Linked DNA regions of Homo sapiens: regions 1 and 3 are each linked to region 2. Evidence: fine-mapped expression QTL. A gene starts in region 2. Each other region holds a variant in brackets. All regions are shown on one strand. Distances are from middle to middle. Region 1 overlaps BAD (BCL2 associated agonist of cell death). Region 2 holds the start of PLAAT3 (phospholipase A and acyltransferase 3). Region 3 holds the start of PLAAT2 (phospholipase A and acyltransferase 2).

Region 1 (8,034 bases), 670 kb after region 2:
AAAGTGCTGGGATTACAGGCGTGAGCCACGGTGCCCAGCCCTAAATTGAATTTTTAAAAAGTGTTCTATTTACAGGGAAAAACCCTGGGGGAGTGTCTGTGAATTCCCTGGGGGAAGGAGAGGGCTGGGGCAGGGCCTGGGCCAGACTCTCCCTTCTCTGGGGAAGGGAAGGGGTGTGGCTCCTCCTTGGGTGTGAACGTGGGTGGGTGCCCAGGCCTGCCCACTCTTGCCATCCGCCTAGAGCCTGGCCCGGAGCTGGGTGTGGAAGTGGAGGGTAGTGGCTGTGGCTAGAAGTGCCCCAGGCCCCAGCATGGCACCTCTAGCTTTACATTCTCTGCGTGTTGGGCTTCTGAGTCAGCGGCTGGGGCGGACATCCCTGCTGATGCTTCCGCGAGCATCCCTGCACTGGGATTTTCAGAGTCCTCAGATTCCCAAGAAGGAGAATACGAAGTTCTCCCTGTTTTATAGATGAGGAAACAGAGGCACACTTAATTACAAGACACTTGCACACTGAATTGCACACTTAATTAAAACAGTGGTGTTCCAGACCGTTTGGAGCAGTGAAGCTCTGCCATCAGGCAAGGGCTGGGTTTGGATCCTGCCCCTACCACATGCCGACCACACACAATCTGCTGCCGGGGGAGGCTGACGTCAGTGGCCAGCACAGTGGCCAGTGCTGCCACCCCACCCTGGGCAGACACTCGCAGCCTGTCCGCCTCCGGCACCTGTAGGCCTCAGCCTTGACTATAGCCTTCCGGTACAGAAGCCCCTTCAGGCCTGCAGAGAACACCCCCAACCTTGCTCAGAGCTCATAAAATCAGAAAGTACTCTAAAGTTGGCAAATGTTTCCTTTTTGTTTTTAAAAAACAGCGACAGGGTCTCTCTCTGTCACCCAGACTGGAGTGGGGTGGCACGATCTCAGCTTACTGCAGCCTCAAAATCCTAGGCGCAATCGATCTTCCCACCTCAGCCTCCTGAGTAGCTTGGACTACAGGCATCACCATGCCCGGCTAATTTTTTAATTTAAAAAATTTTTAGAGAAGTGTCTTGCCATCTTGCCCAGGCTGGTCTCGAACTCCTGAGCTCAAGTGATCCTCCTGCCTTGGCCTCCCAGAGTGCTGGGATTACAGGTATGAAAGGCTGGCTGGCAAATGTTTGTTCACTTTCTTTTCCCTTTTCCTAAGTTAGCTGAAAATGTTTTCTATAAAGGGGGTTCAGTGGGCCACGTGGTCTCTGTGACAACCACTCACCTTTGTGGCCAGAGCTGAAAGGAAACCATAATCAATGTGTAAATGAATACACTGCACCTTGCTGTGTTCCACTAACACTTTCTTTAGGGACCTTGAAATTTGAATTTCATAGAATGTTCACGTTACAAAATATAGTTCTTTGGATTTTTGTCCATAACTTAAAAATATAGGCCCAATGTGGTGGCTCATGCCTGTAATCCCAACACTTTGGGAGGCCAAGGCAAAAGGACTGCTTGAGGCCAGGAGTTCGAGACCAGCCTGAGCAACACAGAAAGACCCTTGTCTCTACAAAAATTAAAATAAAAAAATTAGCCAGGCATGGTGGCGTGCGCCTGTAGTCCCAGCTACTTAGGAAGCTGAGGTGGGAGGATGGCTGGAGCCCAGAAATTTGAGGCTTTATAAATATATAAAGCCAAGAATGTACATAAAGGCAAGAAAATCACTTGAACCTGGGAGGTAGAGGTTGCTGCGAGGCGAGATTGCACCACTGCACTCCAGCCTGGGCGACAGAGTGAGGCTCCATCTTGGAAAAAAAAATTATATATATATATTTATATATAAATATATATATACATAAATAATAACAATGGCAGTTCTAATAATAAGAGCCGCAAACACTTAGCCCCTCCTCTGCGCCAGGCACTGTTTCCAAGCACTTTTCCTATATTAACTCATCAGGTCCTCGCCACAGCCCTGCGAGGTGGGACTAGTTCTATTCCCGTTTACAGATGAGGAAACTCAGGCAGATGGAGTTAATTAACCTGCTCAAGCTCAACCTGCTAGGAAGGGTAGAGCCACGTTTGAACCCTGCAGTCTGGCCCAGGGGCTAGCACTGGGCTGCTTCTTTCTGCCTCTCCACTGTCCACACCTGTTTCAGACACTGGGCTGTGTGGGCTGTCACAGCACAAGGTGGCTGCAGTCCCTGCCCTGGGGACACCTCAGCCATCCAGCAGGGGGGCCTGGTGGCAGGGACTATGAGGAGTGACCGAACCAAGTGTGAGTTGCTCTGCGCAGGTAGAGAGGGCAGAGGCCCCGTGGCTCTGGCGGGGCACTGGCACTTGCTGATCTTTTCTGGGAAACCACTTGCTTTTGGAGACACTGAAAACTAAATCAAAAGGTTAAGAAATCCAGCTCTGTCCTCACCTGGCAGCTGTCTTCTCCCGCAGCCCTCTTTCCTACGGGTCTGCAGCTGGGGCTGGGGGGAGGTGTCGTCCCTGGCCTGTGCAGAATGTTACTCCTGTCCTCTGCCACTCCACCAGCACCCTGTCTCCTTTCTGTACCTTGCTACTCCTTCTACCATGATCTTGTCCCACTCTCCCCTCAGACTCATTCCCAGGGACATAACCTAGGCCTTGTCACCATCAAATAACTCCATCCCAAGCTTCCCACCAGCTGACCCAACCTGTGTGGATCATGCCCCCGGGACCCCAACTCCAACGATGCTGCGGCTTCCCAGGGCTTGCTCCCTTCCCTGAAGCTCAGCCAGCTTGGACCCCACATCTACCATTCCTTCCTTTGCACACACCTGAAGCCCCTACCCCTAACTGGACTGAGACAAGCACAACTCTGGTTCAGACTCCAAGTCCCTGCCAGCTCCCACTAGCACCCTGCTAAAAATCCCACCAGATGCTTAAAAGCCACCTCTAGCGGCCAGACGCGGTGGCTCATGCCTGTAATCCCAGCATTTTGGGAGGCTGAGGCGGGTGGATCACGAGGTCAGGAATTCGAGACCAGCCTGGCCAACATGGTGAAACCCCCGTCTCCACTAAAAACACAAAAATTAGCTGGGCATGGTGCATGCCTGTAATCCCAGCTACTGGGGAGGCTCAGGCAGGAGAATGGCATGAACCCAGGAGGTGGAAGTTGCAGTGAGCCGAGATCGTGCCACTGCACTCCAGCCTGGGTGACAGAGTAAGACTCTATCTCAAAAAAAAAAAAAAAAAAAAAATCCCCCTCTATCCCACCCTCTAGGGTAGCCTCCAGATCCTCCCTCACCCTTCAGTGTTTCTTCTCCATTAAAAGCAACTTCATCCTACCGGGTGCTCAAGCCAGATTCCTTGGTGTTGGCTGGGCACTGTGGCTCATGCCTGTAATCCCAGCACTTTGTGAGGCCAAGGTGGGAGGATCACTTGGGGCCAGGAGCTCAAGACCAGCCTGGCCAACATAGCAAGACCTTGTCTCTAAAATTAATAATAATTTGGCCAGGCGCGGTGGCTCACGCCTGTAATCCCAGCACTTTGGGAGGCCAAGGCGGGCGGATCACAAGGTCAGGAGATCGAGACCA[T/TC]CCTGGCTAACATGGTGAAACCCCATCTCTACTAAAAACACACAAAAAAATTAGCTGGGCATGGTGGCGGGAGGCTGTAGTCCGAGCTACTCTGGAGGCTGAGGCAGGAGAATGGCGTGAACCCGGGAGGCAGAGCTTGCAGTGAGCTGAGATGGTGCCACTGCACTCCAGCCTGGGCGACAGAGCAAGACTCCATGTCAAAAATAAAATAAAATAATAATAATAATAATAATAATAATTTTTTTTTTTGAGACGGAGTCTTGCTCTGTCGCCCAGGCTGGAGTGCAGTGGCACCATCTCGGCTCACTGCAAGCTCTGCCTCCCGGGTTCATGCCATTCTCCTGCCTCAGCCTCCCGAGTAGCTGGGACTATAGGCACCCACCACCACGCCCGGCTAATTTTTTGTATTTTTAGTAGAGACGGGGTTTCACCGTGTTAGCCAGGATGGTCTTGATCTCCTGACCTCGTGATCCGCCCGCCTCGGCCTCCCAAAGTGCTGGGATTACAGGCGTGAGCCACCGCGCCTGGCCTAATTTATTTTATTTTTATTTATTTTTTGTTTTTTGAGACGGACTCTTGCTCTGTCACCCAGGCTGGAGTGCAGTGGCAGGATTTCAGCTCACTGCGACCTCCACCTCCTGGGTTCAAGTGATTCTCCTGCCTCAGCCTCTCAGGTAGCTGGGATTACAGGCGCCCACCACCACATCCAGCTAATTTGTGTATTTGTAGTAGAGACAGGATTTCACCAAGTTGGCCAGGCTGTTCTTGAACTCCTGACCTCAAGTGATCTGCCTGCCTCAGCCTCCCGATGTGCTGGGATTACAGGTGTGAGCCACCACGCCCGGCCAATAATAATTTTTTTTTTGAGACGGAATCTTGCTCTGTCACCCAGGCTGGAGTGCAGTGGTGCAATCTCTGCTCACTGCAAGCTCCGCCTCCCGGGCTCACGCCATTCTCCTGCCTCAGCCTCCAGAGTAGCTGGGACTACAGGCGCCCACCACCACGCCCAGAGAATTTTTTGTATTTTTAGTGGAGACGGGGTTCACCGTGTTAGCCAGAATGGTCTCTATCTCCTGACCTCATGATCTGCCCACCTCGAACTACCAAAGTGCTGGGATTATAGGCGTGAGCCACCGCGCCCAGCCTAATAGTTTTTTTAAAATTCCTTGGCATCATCCTGACTCCTCTCTTTCCCTCGCACCCCACATCCAGTCCATCAGCAGATCCTGCCAGTTCTGCTTTAAAAATAAATCCAGGGATCAGCTACTTCTCACCACCTCCCTGGTGACTCTCTGAATGTCTAAATCTGACCATGCTGCCTCTGCTCAAATCCTTTCCAGGTTTTTACTCAAAGGCAATGCCAGAGTCCTTAGAATGACCTTCAACTTTAGGTCTCCAAATACCCTTTCCTAAACCCCCTCCCCTAGGCCCACCCTAGCCAGGAGCAGGTGTTGCCCTCGAGGCCTTACCATCTGCCCTTCTCTCTGCCTGGAACTCTCTTCCCATCATCCCTGTGGCCTTGGCTCCAGTGGTGCTTCTCACCAAGGTGAGTGCTGACCACCTCTGCTACCATCACTCCCCCCGCCCCTGTGACTCCGGATTCTCTTAACTCTTTTTTTTGAGATGAGTCTCACTCTGTCGCCAGGCTGGAGTGCAGTGGCACGATCTTGGCTCACTGCAACCTCCGCCTCCCGGGTTCAAGCGATTCTCCTGCCTCAGCCTCCCGAGTAGCTGGGACTATAGGTGCGCGCCACCATGCCCAGCTAATTTTTGTATTTTTGGTAGAGATGGGGTTTCACCATGTTGGCCAGGATGGTCTCCATCTCTTCACCTTGTGATACGCCCACCTAGGCCTCCCAAAGTGTTGGAATTACAGGCGTGAGCCACCGCGCCCGGCCTCTCTTAACTCTTTTACATGCTGCCCCCATACAAATCTTCTCACGCATGATAGGATGCTTTTGTGCTTGTTTGCTCATGGCCCCACCAGCTCACTAGAAGGTAAGCTCCACAAGGGCAAGGATTCCTGACGCTTGGGTTCACCGAGGCCCCCTAGCAACTGGAACAGCCTGTGTCACACGGTGAGCACTCACTGTGTGGCGCGAGTGAATGCTGAGTGTGTGTGGGGGGCAGAGAGCAGGGGAAGTTTGTGAGCAGAAAAATGGCCAAGTGCAAGCTCAGGAAGTTAAAGAAAGCTGTGGAGGCTGAGCATGGTGGCTCACGCCAGTAATCTCAACAGTCTGGGAGGCCAAGGTGAGAGGATTGCTTGGGCCCAGGAATTCGAGACAAGACTGGGCAACAAAGCAAGACCCCACCTCTACAAAAAATAAAAAATGAGCTGGTGTGGTGGCATGCACCTGTGGTCCCAGCTGTTCTGGAGGCTGAGGCAGGAGGATCGTTTGAGCCCAGGAGTTTGAGGCCTGCCTGGGCAACAAAAGGAGACCCCGCCCCTGCCCTCATCTCATGAAAATGTGAAAAATGCTGGGCATGGTGGCTCACGCCTGTAATCCCAACACTGTTGGGAGGCTGAGGCGGGTGGATTACGAGGTCAGGAAATGGAGACCACCCTGGCTAACACGGTGAAACCCCATCTCTAATAAAAATACAAGAAATTAGCCCGGCATGGTGACACGCGCCTGTAGTCCCAGCTACTCTGGAGGCTGAGGCAGGAGAACTGCTTGAACCCAGGAGGCAGAGGTTGCAGTGAGCCGAGATTGCACCACTGCACCCCAGCCTGGGCAGCAGAGTGAGACTCCGTCTCAGGAAAAAAAAAAAAAAAAAAAGAAAAAGTAAAAAATAAATTAACTGGGTGTGGTCCACACACCTGTATTCCCAGTTACGTGGGAGGATCACTTAAGCCCAGAAGTTCCGGGCTGCAGTGAGCTGAGATCGCACCTCTGTACTCCCTCCTGGGTGATAGAGCGAGACCCTGTCTCAAAACAAAACAAAACAAACAGAAAAAAAGAAAGCAAGCTATGGGGTCCAATCTGAGAGAATCGAGTGTGGGTGTTTATCCGTAAGAGAGCGAGGGGAAAGAGGCCTCTTAAGCCTTCTTAATCCTGAAAATGGGGAGGAGGTCTTTTAAGCTGCAGTGCCAGAGTGACATGACCTAGTTTTCTATTTTTAGAGATGGGGTCTGGCTATGTTGCCCAGGCTGGTCTTGAATTCCTGGGCTCAAGCCAGCCTCCTGAGTTGCTGGGACTACAGACATGTGCCACCCCACCCAGCTTGACCTGGTTTTTGTGTTCAGAAGATATCTGTTGTTGTTCCAGGTGCCAAGGCCAGTGCTGGGCACAGGGGTGCTAGAGCCTACTGAGAAATGGACATAGAACCCCAGTGTCCATCCTTCCATCTTGGAGCCTGTGCTTCTCACCCCACACAGCCCTGCTGTCTGGGAGGACTGTCTGCCCCTTGAGGTCATCTGCCCCTGGCCACTGTGCCAGGACAGTCCTGCTGTGGGTACGAGCCACAGGGCAAGAAAGAACACATCTGGGAGCTGGAAGGCCTAATCCCAGGGAAAGCATGTAGCCTGGGGCAGGGCACCAAGGAGGCTTCCAGCCCCCACATTCTAAGGAAAGAAACACCAGGAAGGTGTGGCCTTAGGCAGGCCCCTTTTCCTTTTCGGATCACTGCCTGCCTGTCACTGATTTCTGTCCTAACCCCACACTAATAGCTGCTATATATATATATATGTATTTTAAGAGCTGGAGTCTCCCTAAGTCACTCAGGCTGGCCTTGAACTTCTGGGCTCAAGCGATCCTCCTGCCTTGGCCTCCCAAAGTGCTGAGATTACAGGTGTGAGCCACCACGCCCGGCAGCAACCATTTTTTAGCTTTAATGTGCACCAGCTCTGTAATCAAGTGCATCCTATATGTTCCTGCTAATTAACTCAACAGTCCTACAATGGTGGTTATTAATTGCTGTTTTACGAAAGAGGAAACTGGGGCTCTGAGAGTTTGGGGACCGACCCAAAGCATTCAGTGCCTGTGGATGCAACTGGGATGCAGGGAGCCAGTGGGCTGGGGGTGAGGTGTCCCGGCAGGTGGAGGTGGTGGGGTACTTACCTCCATGATGGCTGCTGCTGGTTGGCTGCTCCTGCTGGTGACTGGCGTCCCACAGGAGGCCTGGGGCCTGGCGATGATGCTTGCCGGAGCCTGAGGGCCCGTCCCCTGCGGGGCTGGGGCCCAGGCCCCTCTCTGCAGAGCTGGAGTCTTCCTGCTCACTCGGCTCAAACTCTGGGATCTGGAACATGCTCTGGGCTGTGAGGACAAGATGTTACGTAGTCAAGGCACAGCTGGGGCCAACGGTGGCCCTGGAAGGCAGAGGCAGGTACCCCTGGCTTCCTCTCCCACCGTAGCGCCCCCAGGCCCGCCAGGCCTCCTGGGCCCTCATCTGTCTGCCGGGTCTGGCCTGGCAGGGAGCTGAGGCTGTCGGCTCAGGACCTCAGTCTCCCCTCAGAACCCCGGTGGACCCAGGCCCCGCCCCGCCCGTGGTGACGGCGCA
Region 2 (8,000 bases):
ACCACTACCACCAAGCACTACTGGGGGTTTTCACCTGTTACCTGGAATCCTTATAAGAGCCCCATGTTACCAATCGGGAAACTGAGCTCAGAGATGGGAATTAACTTCCCTAAGGTCTCGGAGCTCCCCGAAAAGTAGCACCAGGATTCCGCAGCAGATCTGCCTGAGCTTAAAGGTGAGGTTCTTCCCACCACACCAAGTAATTCACTCCAAGGTACTGACGTTCAACAACTGTGCTCCCATGGCAAAACTGGCCTCTGCCTCACCGCACTCTCGGCCTGAAATGCCCTTTTGCCGTTCACCTGGAAGATTCCTACTCATCCCTCGAGATGGGCTCAACATGTCCACTCCTCAATGCATCCCCTGATGCCTCAGCAAAGCGAGTTGCTGCTGCCTCCACAGCCAAGCCATAGCCCTATTATTGGATGATTCATTGTTAAGCCTAGCCTGTGGGAAGAAGCGATCAATTTCCTTGCCCAGCCTGCCAGCATTCCAAGGACCAGAATTCCGTCTAATTCACCATTATCCAGCCTGGCACTGACAATGTTCTCAGCAGAGGTGTATGGTGGAGGGATGCACGGCTTCCTCCTCCAGCCCCTCTCAGCCCGTGGCTGAATAGGGATGAAACCCTGGAAGGCCTGAAGCCCCAACTGCTATTTAAGAAGGGTCCTCTTCTCTTCTTCTCTCCCCTCCCCTTTGCACCTTAACTAGTTCCACACAGATCCATCAGAAAATCAAGCAAACTCAGATCACAGAGCAGTCAATGACGGAGTCTAGACTCAGAGAACAGGGAAGGCCTATCAATTTCCTCATATTATGGAGCCTCAGTTTCACTTTGGGGTTTCATTTCCTTGGCAGCAGCTGCTCAACAAGCCACAGATTCAAGGATGGCGCAGGTGGAGGAGGGAAGGGAAAGGCTCCCCGCCCACTCATTCTAGCAAATTTGGAACACAGAGAGGAGAGAAATAATCACAGCAGGAGGCATCACAGGCTGAACTAAAGGGCTCAGGAAACTGTGGACACACCCTCTTCGATCCCCCAGGAGGCTCCTGGGGGCGGCTACAACAACTAACATAAAAGCCGCAAAAGCCCACAGTGGGGAGGCAGGATGTCCTTCCCCACTGTAGACAAATAGGAGCAAGATTGCTGTAGAGGATAGTTTTGTTTGGAGTTTTTTGTTTTATTGTGTTTTGTTTTTTTCTGCAGGCTCTCGCTCTGTCACCCAGGCTGGAGTGCACTGGCGCAATCTCGGCTCACTGCAGCCTCGACCTCCCGGGCTCAAGTGATCTACCACCTTGGCCTCTCGAAGTGCTGCAATTACAGACATGAACCACACGTCTGGCCCAAAGGGAATTTTAAAACAATAATAAAACCTATCAAAAGTCGGTCTGCCTTTTATTACTACCATGTGCTGGCCATTTTAAACAATGTCAGTGATAAAATACCACTCCCCCAAAAAATGTCTTATTCACCTAAATTCTAATTGCTGCAGTTACCATTGAGATTTAATCATATACATGTGAGCCACCAATTAGCACATTTTTATTTCTTATCCTTCTAAAACTTTTGTCTTCTACAAGTTAAATCAGAGAACACGCAGTTATCAGTTCCTGAAACACACAGACTCAGCCATAAGTTCTGTTTCAACAATCAGTTCCTAAAGGCTCAGAATAATTTGAACTCCATTTATACAGTTTATGTAGCCAATCTCTGTGGTCCTGCATTTTCCTGTGTTTAAACATAAAACAGCCTGTCTCCCAGTGCCAAAAGAAACTAAAAGAATGATGTTTGAAAGCCTGGGTGATTTTCATCATTTCTAAAGCAATGGATTAAATAAATGTCAAGGTTCACTATCACTCAGCCATTTTCTCTGATTTTTGCAGAAGAAAAACTTGGGGAATTTTGCCAAATATAATTGAAATGTATGATGGGCCGGGCGCGGTGGCTCACGCCTGTAATCCCAGCACTTTGGGAGGCCGAGGCGGGCACATCACCTGAGGTCAGGGGTTCGAGACCAACCTGACCAACATGGAGAAACCCTGTCTCTACTAAAAATACAAAATTAGCCAGGCGCGGTGGCGCATGCCTGTAATCCCAGCTACTTGGGAGGCTGAAGCAGGAGACTCGCTTGAACCCAGGAGGCGGAGGTTGCAGCGAGCCGAGATCACGCCATTGCACTCCAGCCTGGACAACAAGAGTGAAACTCCATCTCAAAAAAAAAAAGTATGATGAACTGTCTGGTGAAGATTTTGTTGTTGTTTTGTTTTTAGAGATGGGGTCTTGCTATATTACCCAGGGTAGTTTCAAACTCCTAGGCTCAAGTGATCCTCCCACCTTGGCCTCCCCAAGTGCTGGAATTACAGTAATGAATCACTGCACCCAGCCTGTCTTAGTGAAAATGTCTCTAAAAAGGAGATATTTAAGCTGTAGAACTGATTAAAGAAAAAAAGATTTAGGCAGTATTGCAATGTCTGGAATTTATTATGAAATGGGATTTTTATAAATCTCTGCCAAACTAATCCTGATGGTTAAGGCTTTTCCTTTGTCTCTCTAGTTTTATATGAAAGCAGCTTTTGAAATTAAAATTAATAAAAAGTGTTCTTCAATCAACTGGGAGCAAAGATGGACTAGTAGATATAGCTCCCCTGAATACTGACCATGAATATGCAAAGATTGATTTTGACAATGTCATGGACAACTTTTCAGAAGTTTCAAAAACAGAAGTTGTAGTGTTACTATTATTCATCTCTGATACCATCCTACATCTAAGTTTTTCCTTTTTTCAAAAATACATTAATGTGATTAAAACCTACTAATCCATTTTTTTTCCTGCTTTTGCACTCACATTTACTTTTTCATTTTTAATTTTTTTACTCTCATGATTACATATATAAGGTTTTTACTGTCATGATTACATATACGAGGTTCAATAAAAGAAAATGCTCACTGTGTTTCTTTCTGGACATTATTACTATTCATTGCATGATTATTGCTAAAAATAATGTTATCAGATAGAGAATGATATTAAAAAGTGACCACTCCAGGTGTCAAACAAACATGCCAGATACACCCTGACACCAGGCAAAACTCTTTATATGGACTGAGATAATAACAACAGTGAATTATGGTTGAGCACTCAAAATGTGTGCTAGGCATTGTTCTGGGCACTTTCTGAGTATTAAGTGATATAATCTTCACTCTGCGGCAGGGCTCGGTGGCTCACGCCTGTAATCCCAGCACTTTGCGAGACCGAGGCGGGCGGAGCACGAGGTCAGGAAGTCGAGACCATCCTGGCTAACACGGTGAAACCCCGTCTCCACTAAAAATACAAAAAATTAGCCAGGCGTAGTGGCGGGCGCCTGTACTCCCAGCTACTCGGTAGGCTGAGGCAGGAGAATCGCTTGAACCCGAGAGGCGGAGGTCGCAGTGAGCCGAGATCATGCCACTGCACTCCAGCCTGGGTGACAGAGCGAGACTCCGTCTCAAAAAATAAAAATAAAAATAAAAATAAATAAATAAAACAAAACCTTCACTCTGGGAAACAGTGGATTTGAACTTGATGAGAGTCTCACAACCAGATGCTCAACACTAGGAGGGTCCACCTCCAAATCCCATCCTCTGAATCCCTCTGCTGCGGTCCGGCCAGGCGGAAGGGGGGCAGTCGCCAAGCACAGTTAACGCTGGGACTCCGCTGGCAGGGCTGGTCATGGGATGAGTCAGCTGACATAGCCCCCAAGGCCTGTCCCGCTGTCCGGGTGTGGCTCCGGAGGGCAGCGCCAGATTTCTGCGGACAGACCTGCCCTGGCCACCTCCCTCCTGAGGGTCCCGCCTTCCGCTGGGCGCGTTTCAGGCAGGGCGCCCCCACACCGGCCCCCGGAAGGACGCGCCGAGACAACTCCCAACAGGTGCGCGCCGACCCGCAGCTGACACCGATGCCTCGCAGCTGACAGAGGTGCGGGCCCCACATCCTCGAGGCTCCTCTCTCGGAAGCAGTAATTCAGGCTCCGAGACAACGAGTCCCCACTAACAGGGGGCTCCCAGCCCCGCCCAGCCCCGCCTCGCCCCGCACTTACAATGGGCGCACGCATCTTCCCTCGCGGTGTGGACCCTCAAGGCCAGGCTCGATTTCGCTGCGTAGATGTCTGAGGCAGGGGGAGCAGGGATTTATTGTCATTAACAGGAAACTGCGTCTCCAGACCCCACGGGACTGCGGCTTCTGTTGGGCAGGGCGTGAGAGGCGCGCCTCGGACCCCAGGAACAACCACCTCGCTCCCTTTAACAACTTTCTCGCCGGGGCCCGGCGGGCGCCCAGGAGGCTGCAGGTGCCAGCGGGCGGCTCGGCAGGCTAGTCTACACCCGCCCTACCCAATTAGATCTCTTCCTCGCGGAAGGGGAGAAGCATCCCAGGCACCTCGCCCGGCCTTATCGCACCCTTCCAGGAAGACCCGATCCACCCACCTCGCGGTCTCGGAGGCAGCGCTGCAGCCCCAGCAATTGGACCGGGTCTAATGGCCGCGGTGGCCGGGCCGGCGTGAGGTCACCCGGCCCCTCCCCGCGCCGCCGGCTAATGAGAGCCTCGCAGAGCGCCCGGCCCCGGTCCCGAGCCCGGCGACTGCAGGACGCCCGCGCCCCCGGCACCGCCTCTTCCCGCCTCACCCATGCCCTGCGCGCCCAGCATCCAGGAGTCGCACACACTCGACCTCTGCACACACATCACACTGCAGGGCCATGATGGGTTTACTTTCGCCTTCACTCAAGAATGGGCTTATAGTTTAAAAACTGAAGGAGTTAAAAATATACCACCAAGGGCCGGGCGCGGTGGCTCACGCCTGTAATCTCAGCACTTTGGGAGGCCGAGGCGGGCAGATCACGAGGTCAAGAGATCGAGACCATGCTGGCTAACACGATGAAACCCCGTCTCTACTAAAAATGCAAAAAATTAGCCGGGCGTGGAGGCATGCGCCTGTAGTCCCAGCTACTCGGGAGGCTGAGGCAGGAGAATCACTTGAGCCCGGGAGGTGGGGGTTGCAGTGAGCCAAGATCGCGCCACTGCACTCTAGCCTGTGCAACAAAGCGAAACTCAGTCTCAAAATATATATATGTGTGTATATATATGTATATATATGTGTATATATATGTGTGTATATATGTGTGTATATATGTGTATATATGTGTATATATGTGTGTATATATGTGTGTATATATGTATATGTGTATATGTGTGTATATATGTGTATATATGTGTGTATATGTGTGTATATATATGTGTGTATATATGTGTGTATATATATGTGTATATATGTGTATATATGTGTATATATGTGTGTGTATATATATGTGTGTATATATGTGTATATATGTGTATATATATGTGTGTATATATGTGTGTATATATGTGTGTATATATGTGTGTATATATGTGTGTATATATATGTGTGCATATATATGTGTGTATATATATGTGTATATATGTGTGTATATGTGTGTGTGTGTGTGTGTGTGTGTATATACACACCACCATGGCATATTGGCTGTTTTGAATTAAAGGCATTTAAAACTCAGCAGGTGCAAGAAGACCCCTTTTCTGTGTCTTAAAAGCAGATGAAATTTCCATGTTGAAGGACACCTTCCTTATACTAGAAGAAAAAGCAACATCCTTATCCTCAAAGAGGAGATGTTGAGACGGAAAGAATTCTGTACAGACCTTGTTGAAATAACTTTTTTCATTTTTTACTTTTTGGGGTTTTTTGTTTTTTTTTTTTTGAGACAGTCTCACTCTGTCACCCAGGCTGGAGTGCAGTGGCTCTATCTCAGCTCACTGCAACCTCTGCCTTCCGGGCAAGCGATTCTCCTGCCTCAGCCTCCGGAGTAGTTGGGATTACAGACGTGCACCACCGCGCCCAGCTAATTTTTGTATTTTTAGTAGAGACAGGGTTTCAGCATGTTGACCATGCTGGTCACGAACTCCTGGCCCCAAATGACCCACCTGCCTCAGCCTCCGAAAGGGCTGGGATTACAGGCGTGAGCCACCACTCGGCCCATTTTTTACTTTTTAATTGACAAAAATTGCCACGTATTTGTCATGTACAACATGTTGTTTTGAAATATGTATACATTGTGGAATAACTAAATCGAGCTAATTAACATATGCATTACCTCACATACTTCTTTTGTGGTGAGAACACAAAACCTCTCCGTAATTTTCAAGAACATAGTACATTGTTATTTACTATAATCACCATGTTGTGCAATAGATCTGGTGAACTTATTCCTCTATTCCTCCTAACAGAAATTTTGTACCCTTTGACCAACATCTCCCTGACACCCCCCTGTTCCCCCCAACCGCCGTAACTGCCATTCTACTCCCTACTCGTGGGTTCCATTTTTTTAGATTCCATATATAAGTGAGATCACAAAGTATGTGTCTTTCTGTGCCTGGCTTATTTCACTGAACGTAATGTTCTCCAGGAAAATAACTGTTATCTGGTAAGCCTCCCCACATAATTTAGTTGCATCTTTTTAATTTTTATTTTTATTTAAATAGAGACAAGGTCTCAAACTCCTGGACTCAAGTGATCCTCCCTCCTTGGCCTCCCAAAGTGCTGAGATTACAGGCGTGAGCTACCGGGCCCCGCTCTTAGTTGCTTCATTACAACTTACTATTCTTTGTCCAATTCGGTGTAGAAGTAACTGACACCAACTACTTCTTTGGGTCTTCATTTCCTTATGAGGGCTCCTGTGTTGCAGGACGCAGAGGAGTAGAGAGACCAGTATAGGCCGGGCGCGGTGGCTCACGCCCGTAATCCCAGGACTTTGGGAGGCCGAGGCGGGTGGATCACGAGGTCAGGAGATCGAGACCATCCTGGCTAACACAGTGAAACCCCGTCTCTACTAAAAATACAAAAAATTAGCCGGGCGAGGTGGCGGGTGCCTGTAGTCCCAGCTACTCGGGAGGCTGAGGCAAGAGAATGGCGTGAACCCCGGGGGGCGGAGCCTGCAGTGAGCCGAGATCGCGCCACTGCACTTCAGCCTGGGCGACAGCGAGACTCTGTCTAAAAAAAAAAAAAAAGGAGAGACCAGTATAGGTGAATACAGGAGGATATTTATTTTAAGGTGCACACCAGCTCAGTGGGTTCACATCCAAAAAACTGAGCCTTGAACAAAGACCAAGCAGGATTTTTATAAGCAAATTTACAGAAGCAGCAAAGCAAAGGCAGTTAATCATATAATGACAGGTCACATAATCTATAGCATAACTGATGACATGGCATAACTTGTGGCCTTGCATAGCTGGTGGCCTTGTAGCTGCATTGAAAGTAAAAACAAGAACTGGCTAAATTTCTTTTAGCCAGATATTTTGTCCTTTTTTTTTTTTCTTTCACCTTTACTCCGGAGGTGGGGCATCTGGAGCCTATTCCTTTGGTTTTGACTTCTCAAACAGCATTATCTTATAACTGTCCTTGAAGTGAGCTTGCTAGGCAGAGGAAAACTTGCTCTTCTTTTCTTTTTAACCATTGCCTTGCCACATTCTGGGCTTTGGCTTTTACTTTTCTTGGAGTGAATGAATGCAGTACTTATTATTATTTTTAAATTTCTGCCTCACCTATGCCAGTAAAACTTGTATTAAAGAAATGTGTATGCTTTTCTCCTGTTAATCTTTTTTATTTTTTTGAGACAGGGTGATATGGTTTGGATCTGTGTCCCCACCCAAATCTGTTGTCAAATTGTAATCCCCAATGTTGGAGGTGGGGCCTAGTGGGAGGTGACTGGATCACAGGGGCGAATTTCCCCCTCAGTGCTGCTCTCTGATAGTGAGTTAATGCTTGGGAGATCTGGTTGTTTAAAAGTGTGTAGCACCTCTCCCCTTTCTCCCTTTCTCTTGCTCTGGCCATGTGAGGTGCTCACTCCCCTTTTTCCTTCTGCCATGACTGAAATGTCCTGAAGCCTCCCCCAGGCTTCCTGTACAGCCTGCGGAACCATGAACCAATTAAACCTCTTTT
Region 3 (10,486 bases), 48 kb before region 2:
GAGACAGCCCTTGCCACATAAATTCTGTTTCCGGTATGCTCTGGTGCCAGCCAGCACCCCTCCTCCCCCTATCTCAGCTGAGCCAAGCCACAAAGGAGTTGAACTGCTGCCGAGGGTGGTGAGAGTGCCAGCCAACTCAAAGTCTGGTGGGGAGCTATAGTTAAAAGTAAAGCCTTTCATTTGAAGTAATTTGGATGGAATTGGAGATCATTATTCTAAGTGAAATAACTCAGTAATGGAAAATCAAACATCCTATGTTCTCACTCGTAAGTGGGAGCTAAGCTATGAGGACGCAAAGGCATAAGAATCATACAACGGACTCTGAAGACTGAGGGAAAAGGGTGGGAGTGGGTGAGGAATAAACGACTACACACTGGGGCTGGGTGTGGTGGCTCACGCCTATAATCCCAGCATTTCAGGAGGCCGAGATGGGTGGATTGCCTGAGGTCAGAAGTTTGAGACCAGCCTGGCCAACATGGTGAAACCCCCATCTCTACTAAAAATACTAAAATTAGCTGGGTATAGTGGCAGGTGCCTGTAATCCCACCCACTTGGGAGGCTGAGGCATGAGAATTGCTTGAACCCGGGAGGCAGGGGTTGCAGTGAGCAGAGATCGTGCCACTGCACTCCAGCCTGGGCGATAGAGTGAGACTCCATCACAAAAAAAAAAAAAAAAAAAAAAAAAAAGACTACGCATTGGGTACCGAGTACACTGCTGAGATGATAGGTACACCAAAATCTCAGACATCACCACTAAAAACTAATTTATGTAACCAAATACCACATGTTCCCCCCCAGAACCTCGAAATTTAAAAAAAAGTAAAGCCTTTGACTAGAGGGGTCAAGAGTCAACTTGACCAAATAAGGGACAATTTGAGCATCAAAAAAAAATAATAAAAATAACTGTACACAAACTGAAACACATCAAATATGTTAAAACCCACGTGTTCATAAGGATATTTTTTAAAAACACTAGGCATCTTTGGAGGATGGAAAAGAATCACCCTATTATTCCAAAAGCTGGTAAATAAAGGAAAAGATTCAAGCATTTCCTAACTGAATTGTCCTCACGGAATGCAATTTAAAACTACAACAAACCCCAAAGCTACAAACCAATACTTGTAAGGTAGCCATATATGTATGCAAAAACAGAAAAATATTTGGAAGAATACGCACCAGGTTGTACAGAGGGGAAAGGCTGTACAGATGGGAAGGATGGTCAAAGGGGACATTAGTTTTTATGCTAATAGTTTTGGTTTTTGGCTTTTGGCTTTTTTTGAGACATGATCTCATTTTGTCACCCAGGCTGGAGTGCAGTGGCACTATCACAGCTCACTGCAGGAAGCCTCAGCCTCCCCAGCTCAAGTGATCCTCCCACCTCAGCCTCCCAAGAAGCTAGGACTATAAGCACATACCATTATCCTTGGCTAATTTTAATATTTTTTGTAGGGATGGGATCTCACTATGTTGCCCAGGCTAGAGTTTCGGTTTTTCAGACAAAGTGAATGTGTTCACGTATTTCTCCTGGAATTAAATACATTCTTTCTTTTTTAAGTCGAAGCTTTAGAGTCAGAGCCTCCTAAGTTCGAATTCCCTCTCTGACTTTTGGGCAGCCCCCTCTCTATACTTACCAGTATATCATTCCTCCTATCCATGAAGTTGGCAGTAATTATGCCTACTTCATAGGATTGCTTATTAACTACCTGGTGTGGATTAAATAAAAGAAGTGTTTAGCATGGTGTCTGGACCCCTGAGCACTTGGGAAATGTGGCTGCTATTGGGTCTAAAGGAAGAAGGAAACTAAGAAGGAATTGGAGGGAAGGAGGGAAAGTAGAGGGACTGGCCCTGCCTGGAGGCGAGGGAGACAGAGCCCTTTCTGACAGCCCCCATTGCCACCCACACAGCTGGAGCCCTTTCCCTGGACCCTCCCTCCCCAGCTAATCCCTCCCACTGAGGATGATGTGACAGAGGAGGCGGCCTGTGGGGTAAACCAAGGGCTGCTCTCCCTGAGCCCACCATTCCTGCCTTCAGGAGGCTTAGCAGAGCCACTGGTAGTTTGGCCAGAGGAGGGCTTGGAAAAGCATAAACGCAAACTTTGGCCACAGTAGAACCAGACCCCATGCGGCAGCTGAGGCTGGGGAGCCTCCAGGGTCATAACCCAGCACCGTGGTTCCTTCCCACAGTGTCTGAGAGAGCCAGACCCCCAGAACTCAGCATGTGCCCATGTGCCCTCCATGCCAGAGCTGTAGACCAACAAGAATACACATAATCATCACTAATAGGGTGGTTGTTCCTCAAATCAAAGCTTTAAAACCGTTTCTGGGGACTTACCAAAGCCATCCTTCCTTCAAGATGATGTCTTGTGTGTTGCTGACTCTGTGTCCAGCCTTAAATTAGCTCTGAGTTTCACTTTCCCTGTGACCCAGCCCATATACAACTATTTCAGAACATAGGCTGGGTGCGGTGGCTCACACCTGTAATCCCAGCACTTTGAGAGGCTGAGGCGGGAGGATCACAAGGTCAGGAGATCGAGACCATCCTGACTAACACGGTGAAACCCCGTCTCTCCTAAAAAATAGAAAAAATTAGCTGGGCATGGTGGTGGGCACCTGTAGTCCCAGCTACTCCAGAGGCCGAGGCAGGAAATGGCGTCAACCCAGTAGGCAGACCTTGCAGCGAGCAGAGGTCGTGCCACTGCACTCTAGCCTGGGCGGCAGGGCGAGACTCAGTCAAAAAAAAAAAAAAAAAAAAAACAGAACATAGATCAAGGTTCATGTAAAATTTTCCCTGTCTTCAAACAGGGGCAGAGCACATATCAAGTAGGCAAGGCGGCATGAAAATCAGCCAGACAGAAGAGGAATCAGAGCTCAGGATATAGATTGAGAAGGACTTAGTGGCAGTGTGGTCAGGGGCACAGCTGACAATCACCAAGTTTCAGGTGGAACAAGCAAGATCCAGTGGTTGTGGGGGCAAGGGAGGATATAGAGACAGAGACCATGGGGGAAAATTTCAAAAAGGAGAGAGGAGCCCCAGAGAGACTGAGATTCATGCCTCCAAATTGGGAATGATGGTTGCCGGGACAGGCAAACATTTCCACCAACCTCAAACCCCATGGCCCTAGAAAAATCGTATTATTGGAGGCACATTCCTCTACCCTGGAAACAGAGTGAGCCTGCTTGGACAGCAGTATAGAAACCACTCCCCTTTCTGCCTCTCACCCACAGTTCAGAAACACTCATTCCACACCAAATGGAAACCAAAACCCAGTACTGGGTGTGTAGAGGTTGCTTCTTTGAGGCACCTGCATGCTTATCTCACCCAAGCTCCAAATAAGTATCTCTTCTGTCATCTACATATAGTTGTCCGGTCCTGAGCAAACTGGACAGGAAGGGGTGGGTGGGGCTGGGGGGAGCTGAGCATCCTCACTGTGGGGCATGGGGGCGAGGACCAATAACTTACCCTCTTCAGGCTATAAACAAACAAACAAACAAAGAGCTTTAGTGTGGGGATGCAGATGGACTGGAGCCAGAACTGGAAAACTCTTTGGGAGCCACAGCAGTTCTGCATGACCAGCTACTCCCTCAGCTCACGTGGTCATGTGGTCTTGCTCCCATGGAGACGGCCTCTCTCAGCACCTCCACTCCATTCTCCTCTGAGTTGCAGTGGGACAATCTTCAAAGTATTCCTTCTGGAGGGAGACAGTAGGGTTGGCTTGGCTAATTATCTCCTGCCCCATTGTCCAGAGACCTCTGGGCCGGTCCCACTCAGGCTTGCTGATCATCTTTTTAGGGGCTGACCTCCAGTCCAGCAATCTCAGTTCTTCCTATGCCTGCCCTCCCCTTGCAACCACATCACACCCCTGTTTCCTGGGGCAGGAGGACTTCCACGTGCTGTCTGCTGAAAGGATCTCAGGTGGGTTGGCACAATGACCAACCAGACCATGCAGGGCGGAGTTGGGGAGGAACATCACTGTACTCATGCTGGGGCTTGTGGCTTTTCACCGAATCCAAGCTGTTCAGAGTGTCAGGAAATTATGTCCAGGAGCTATAGGAAAGGAGAGTCTGCAAATCAAGGGCCAGTGGAATGAGAATTCTGCTGTCTCCCTACTGTTCATGCTGAGCAGGAAAGGTGACAAAGTTCTACTGACAGAGAACAGGGTAGGGCAGGCCACACCCAGCCTGCTGGTAAGCTCTAGGCCTACAGCCTGGAATACTTACATTTTTGTTCACATGCACGCTCTCTATGTTTGTTTAATTGTATAAAAGGCTATAAAAGGAAAGATAAGCCTCCATTCTCCCCACCTCCAGCCTCCAGCCTCCAGCAACCCAGTTCCCCTTTCTAGAGGCAATGTTATCTTTCTATGTACATGCCAGGAATATCTTGGGCTACATATAATTTTAATGGGCTTTGGCCGGGCACAGTGGCTGATGCCTGTAATCCCAGCACTTTTGGAGGCCAAGGTGGGTGAATCACTTGGGTCAGAAGTTCGAGACCAGCCTAGCCAACATGGCAAAACCCCGTCTCTACTAAAAATACAAAAATTAGCTGGGCTTGGTGGCGCACGCCTGTAGTCCAGCTGCTCGGGAAGCTGAGGCAGGAGAATCTATTGAACCTGGGATGCAGAGGTTGCAGTGAGCCAAGATCACGCCACTGCCCTCCAGCCTGGGTTACAGAGTGAGACTATGTCTCAGAAATAAATAAATAAATAAATAAAGGATTTTATTAAATCTTATATCCATATAGAAGAATAATTGCAACATAAGTATAAAACACTAGAAATAATAACAAAACAGGTACCAATAAACCTAGTTGAAGAAATAGAAAATAACCAATTTCTTAAATAAGCCCTGTGTCCCACAAAAACCTGTCCACAGATGTTCATAGCAGCCGTGGTGGTTAATTTGTTGTGTCAATCCGACAGGGCCATGGGGTGCCCAGATGCTGTGTGATGTCTGGGCATGTCTGTTGAGGTGCTTCCAGATGAGATCAGCATTTGAATTGGTGGAATGGGTGAAGCAGATGACCCTCCCTTATGTGAGTGGGGAGCATCAATCTGTTGAGGGCTTGATTAGAACAAAGCTAGAGGAATGAGAAATTCGTCCCCTTTTCGTCTGCCTCACTACTTGTGTTGAGATAGCTCACCTCATCTTCTGCCCTCATACTGGGATTTACTCTATCGGCTCCCTGGATTCCCAGGTCTTTTGACGCAGACGGAATGATACCACTGCCTTTCCTGAGTCTCCAGGGTCTCTAGCCTGCAAACAGCAGATGGTGGGACTTCTCAGCCTCTGTGATTGCTGCAGCAGCTAATTTTTTGTAAGAAATCTTGATGGGGCCGGGCATGGTGGCTCACGCCTGTAATCCCAGCACTTTGGGAGGCCGAGGCGGGCGGATCACGAGGTCAGGAGATTGAGACCATCCTGGCTAACTCGGTGAAACCCCGTCTCTACTAAAAAATACAAAAAAAAACAATTAGCTGGGCGTGGTGGTGGGCACCTGTAGTCCCACCTACTCCGGAAGCTGAGGCAGGAGAACTGCATGAACCCGGGAGGCGGGGCTTGAAGTGAGCCAAGATGGCGCCACTGCACTCCAGCAGAGGTGACAGAGCGAGACTCCATCTCAAAAAAAAAAAAAAAAGAAATCTTGATGGATAGATAACCTCCCATTGGTTCTGTTTCTCTGAAGAACCCTGACTAATACTCAGCATTATTCATAATTGCCAAAAGGTGACACCCAAGTGTTCATCAACTGACGAATAAATGACGAAATG[TG/T]GTATATTCGTATGATGTGATATTATTCAGCCATAAAAAGGAAGTACTGATACATGCTAAAATATAGAGGAAGCTTGAAAACATGATAAGTGAAAGAAGCTGGTCACAAAAGCCATATAGTATATGATTCCATTTATTTGAACTGTCAAGAATGGGAAAACACACAGAGACATAAAGCAAATTCATGATTGTAATGATTATTTAGGGATGGAAGGGCTAGGGGATTCAGGTTGTGTTTCTTTTTAGGTGATGAGAAGGTTTTAAAGTTGATTGTGGTAATAGTTTCATGACTGTGAACATGCTAAAGGGCATCGAATTATATACTTTAGTAAGTGAACTATATGGTACTGAGGCAGGATAGATAGTCAAGGAGATGACCACGTCCTTGGGACATGGCAACCACACTGTCAACAGCACAATGAGCCCTGTAACCATGTTCATTGGGACATAGCAACCGCACCAACAACACAACAAACCTCAGCACTCACATTGTAATCAAGCTCATCCAAGCAGAACTACCTTCACTGGGGACTTTCCCCTGTAGAGAGCATGTGCATTTTCACTTTGCTTGTCCTCAGAATGACCCTTTGCTCATTATAATAGTAAAAAACACACCCCTGGGTAGAGATTTAAGACGGCAATGAGACATGCAATGTATGAACAAGCATGTACAGCAACTGCTCATGTGCACCCAGAGGACCACCCAGAACATGATTACTAGGAACACACCTCTTCCCACCCACTATGAATAATCACATAAGACTCTCATAAAGGGAGTTCCCTCAGAGCCAGTCTTTGCTGACTCACTCTTGATCAGCCCACTCTGACTTATCTTTCAGAGTGTACCTTTCAGAGTGTATCTTTCAGAGTTTTATCTTTGCACTAAATTACTTTCAGCTGTTTCTTTTTACACTCAGCTTTCAGAGTGTTCTTTCTCTTTTGCAATACATTGCTTTCTGTTGTTCCTCTATGGTTGTGTCTCTTGTTAAAATTATTTTAACCAAGAAGACAAGAACAGAGGTCTCACAATCACCGTCAACAGTATGTAAATTATACCTCAGTGAAGCTATTACCAAAAAAATTAACCCTGTGTTCCTCTTCCTCCTAATGCAGTTGTAGCCACTCTCCTGAATTTTGTCTCTATTGTCCTATTGATTTTTAAATTTTTTTATAAACACATCCCTTAATAATATATAAATGTAATCCTTAACAATATACATTTAGTTTATAATTTTTAAAGTTTGTAAAAGTAGAATCAAACATCAAGCATTCCATAACAATATTTTTGGTTCAATATTAGGTTTCATACCCATGTTGATTGGCCATAGCTATTCATTCATTTGCATGGTACTCCCATGTGGCAAATGGGAATGTGCCACAGTTTACTTATCCTGACTCCTGTCAACAATCACTGGAGGTTGTATATAGTCCATTCTCACACTGCTATGAAGAAATACCCAAGACTGGGTAATTTATAAAGGAAAGAGGTTTAATTGACCCACACTTCCACATTGCTGGGGGGCCTCAGGAAACTTACAGTCATGACAGAAGGCAAAGGAGAAGCAGGCACCTTCTTCACAGGGCAGCAGGATGGAGTGAGTGCAAGCAGGGGAAATGCCAGATTCTTATAAAACCACCAGATTGGCCGGGTGCGGTGGCTCACGCCTGTAATCCCAGCACTTTGGGAGGCCGAGGCAGGCGGATCACGAGGTCAAGAGATCAAGACCATCCTGACCCACATAGTGAAACCCCATCTCTACTAAAAATACAAAAATTAGCTGGGTTTGGTGGTGCAAGTCTGTAGTCCCAGCTACTCAGGAGGCTGAGTCATCAGAATCGCTTGAACCCGGGAGGCGGAGGTTGCAGTGAGCCAAGATCGCACCACTGCACTCTAGCCTGGTGACAGGGCAAGACTCCATCTCAAAAATAAATAAATAAATAAATAAAAATAAGATCTCACAAGATTCACGTACCATCATTAGAACAGCATGGGGGAACCACCCCCACGATCCCATTACCTCCACCTGGTCCTGCCTTTGACACGTGGGAATTACAATTCAAGATGAGATTTTGGGTGGGGACCACCGCCAAACCATATTAGGGGTGTTCCCAGTGTGTCACCATTACTGAACAGGTTACTGTTAATACTCTCCATAGTATGTTTTGATAAACAGATGTTCTTATCTAATGTAATGAAATTTATCTCTTTGTACCTTACTTTTTGTCTTTATTTTTTGTGCTTATGAACTACAGTAAGGTCATAAAGATGTTCTCCTGTATTTGCTTCTAAAAATTGACATTTGGCCAGGCACGGTGGCTCACACCTGTAATCCCAGCACTTTGGGAGGCTGAGGTGGGTGGATCACCTGAGGTCAGGAGTTCAAGACCAGCCTGGCCAACATGGTGAAACCCATCTCTACTAAAAAATACAAAAATTAGCCAGGCGTGGTGGTGCACGCCTGTAATCCCAGCTACTCAGGAGGCTGAGACACAAGAATTGCTTGAACCCAGGGGGCAGAGGTTGCAGTGAGCCAAGATCATGCCACTGCACTCCAGCCTGGGCAACAGAGCGAGACTCTGTCTCAAAAATAAAATAAAAATAAAAATTGACATCTGTCCTTCACATGTAAGTCTGAAATTCTCCCCAAACTGACTTTTTCTGTGCAGTGCAAAGTCCATGTGGTTATATGTGAATACCATTTACTAGTTAGGGATCAACAAACTATAGCCTACAGGCAAATGCAGGCCTTCATCTGTTTTTGTTTTGTTTGTAATAGACACTGGGTGTCACTATGTTGCCCAGTTCAAATAATCCTCCTGCCTCTGCCTCCCAAAGTGCTGGGATTATAGGTGTGAACCACCATGCCTGGTCTCCTTTGCCCGTTTTTGTACAGCCCAGTAGCTAATAATGGTTTCTGCATTTTAAATGGCTGAGAAAAACAAAAAGAAAGCTAATAACTCATGACCCATGAAAATTATATGAAATTTAAATCTCAATGCACATAAAGTTTTATTAGAACATATCCATGATCATTTGTTCACGTACAGTATTGTCTATAGCTGCTCTTACAATACCACAGCAGAGGTGACTAACTACAACAGACACTGTGAACACCACGTAAGGCTGTCTAGCCCTTACCAAAAAAGTTTGCCAATCCCTCAATAGTTCATCCTTTCCCCCCATGATCTGCAGTACTGTCTCTGTTGTAAATTAGAGTTTCATTTATTTGTGGGTCTGTTTTGGAAATTTGGCTCAATCCATTGGCCAATTTAACTATCTCTACACCAAAAATACACTATCTTGATCACAATAATAATTTATAATAAGCCTTAATAATAACACAAGTCTCCCTGCCTGATGTTCCTTCTTTGTTAATGAAATAGCTAACCCTGCCTCTTTACTTTTCCAAATACATTTCAGAATCTGGCTTCCAATTCCAGGAAAGACCTTGTTGGGATTTGGTTTGGAATCACATTGAATCCATAGGTGAGTTTTGAAAGAAACTGACATACTTATGCCATTGAGGCTTCCTATCCATTAATGATATATCTCTCTCCATTTATGAGGTCTTCTTTAATGTCCTTCAATATTTTCTCCATAGAGGTCTCACTCATTTGTTACCATAATCCTTGGTAAAACTCACCTACACGACCATCCAGGCACACCATTTCTTTGTAGAAAAAGTGTTAACTACTGATTTATCCTTTAATGAGCAAAGGACTGCTTAGATTTTTAAATATTTTCTTGGTTCAATTTTGATGACATTTTTCTTGGAATATATCAATTCCATCAAAATTTTCCAATTTTTTATAATTATTTATCAATATTTGTTTTTGCTGGTTTAATCTCTGCAGCATCTATAGTTGTGGTCTCTTTTTTACTCCTAAATCATTTGCTGTGCCTTCTCTCTTTTATATGCTTGTTTTTCTTCATTTATTTTTGCTCATATCTTTGTATTGTCTTCCCCTTTTTCTGTCTTCTTAAATTGGATAATTAACTCCTTAACTTGCACCTCTCCTTCCTTTCTTTCTTTTTCTCTTCTTCTTTTGCTTTCTTTCTCTTTTTCTTTTCTTTTCTCCAGGCTAGTATTGAATTCCTAGCCTCAAGCGATCCTCCCACCTCAGCCTTGCAAAGTGCTGGGATTACAGGCATAAGCCACCATGCCAAGTCACCTTTTCCTTTCTTAATGTAAGGATTTATGCTACAAAATTTTTTCTAAGCACCCCTTTAGCTGCATGGTCCAAATATTGGTATCTAGTATTTTTGTTATCATTCAGCTCTAAATATTATCTAACTCCCATTAGTTTTCTTTTTTTGACTCATAATGTATCTAGCAGTATATTCTAAAATTCCTGAAAGTATAGGGTTTTTCTGGTTATCTCTCGCTATTGATTCCTGAATTAATTGCTTTACGGTTAAAGAAGATTATTTCTACGTTACTAATCTAAAATTTGTTGGCTTGCTTTAAGACTCTCATAAATATTCCATGTGTGCAGTTGAAAAGAATCTGTATTTCACAATTATATTATATATGGTCATTAAGTAAGCTTGTTGGTAAATTTTCTATGTCTTTATAGACTTCTATGTTTCCTTCATTCATCAGTTCCTTAGAAAGGTGTATTTAGATCTCCCACTATGATGATGTTTGTCCTCTCCAAACTTCATGTTGAAACTTAATCCCAAATGTGGCAGTATTGAAAGATGGGTCTTTTGG

Evidence for each region. PIP is the estimated chance that this variant, and not a neighbour inherited with it, causes the effect.
Region 1: its variant is fine-mapped to the expression of PLAAT3 in whole blood (INTERVAL, PIP 0.97).
Region 3: its variant is fine-mapped to the expression of PLAAT3 in monocytes after Pam3CSK4 (Quach 2016, PIP 0.95).

What each region holds. Positions count from the first base shown.
Region 1 is chr11:64,276,587-64,284,620 of GRCh38, forward strand. It overlaps BAD (BCL2 associated agonist of cell death), which reads right to left. Exons shown (of 4, transcript NM_032989.3): 2 at 7,596-7,790. The coding sequence starts at 7,782. It also overlaps a transcript of GPR137 not described here. Among named protein-coding and RNA genes, the nearest start is that of BAD, 4.1 kb to the right of the region's middle. RefSeq lists enhancers at 1-496, 2,023-2,524 and a silencer at 7,959-8,034. The variant T/TC (reference allele first, on the strand shown) is at 3,535.
Region 2 is chr11:63,609,927-63,617,926 of GRCh38, forward strand. PLAAT3 (phospholipase A and acyltransferase 3) reads right to left here and starts at 4,507. Exons shown (of 5, transcript NM_001128203.2): 1 at 4,459-4,507; 2 at 4,074-4,142. The coding sequence starts at 4,088. LNCROPM (lncRNA regulator of PLAAT3 mediated phospholipid metabolism) reads left to right here and starts at 6,382. Exons shown (of 4, transcript NR_199012.1): 1 at 6,382-6,486. RefSeq lists enhancers at 800-1,309, 2,063-2,563 and silencers at 4,560-4,639, 4,660-4,719.
Region 3 is chr11:63,560,985-63,571,470 of GRCh38, forward strand. PLAAT2 (phospholipase A and acyltransferase 2) reads right to left here and starts at 2,395. Exons shown (of 4, transcript NM_017878.2): 1 at 2,332-2,395. The coding sequence starts at 2,340. RefSeq lists a silencer at 3,352-3,431, a cis regulatory region at 6,201-6,728 and enhancers at 6,521-6,570, 6,581-6,670. The variant TG/T (reference allele first, on the strand shown) is at 5,771.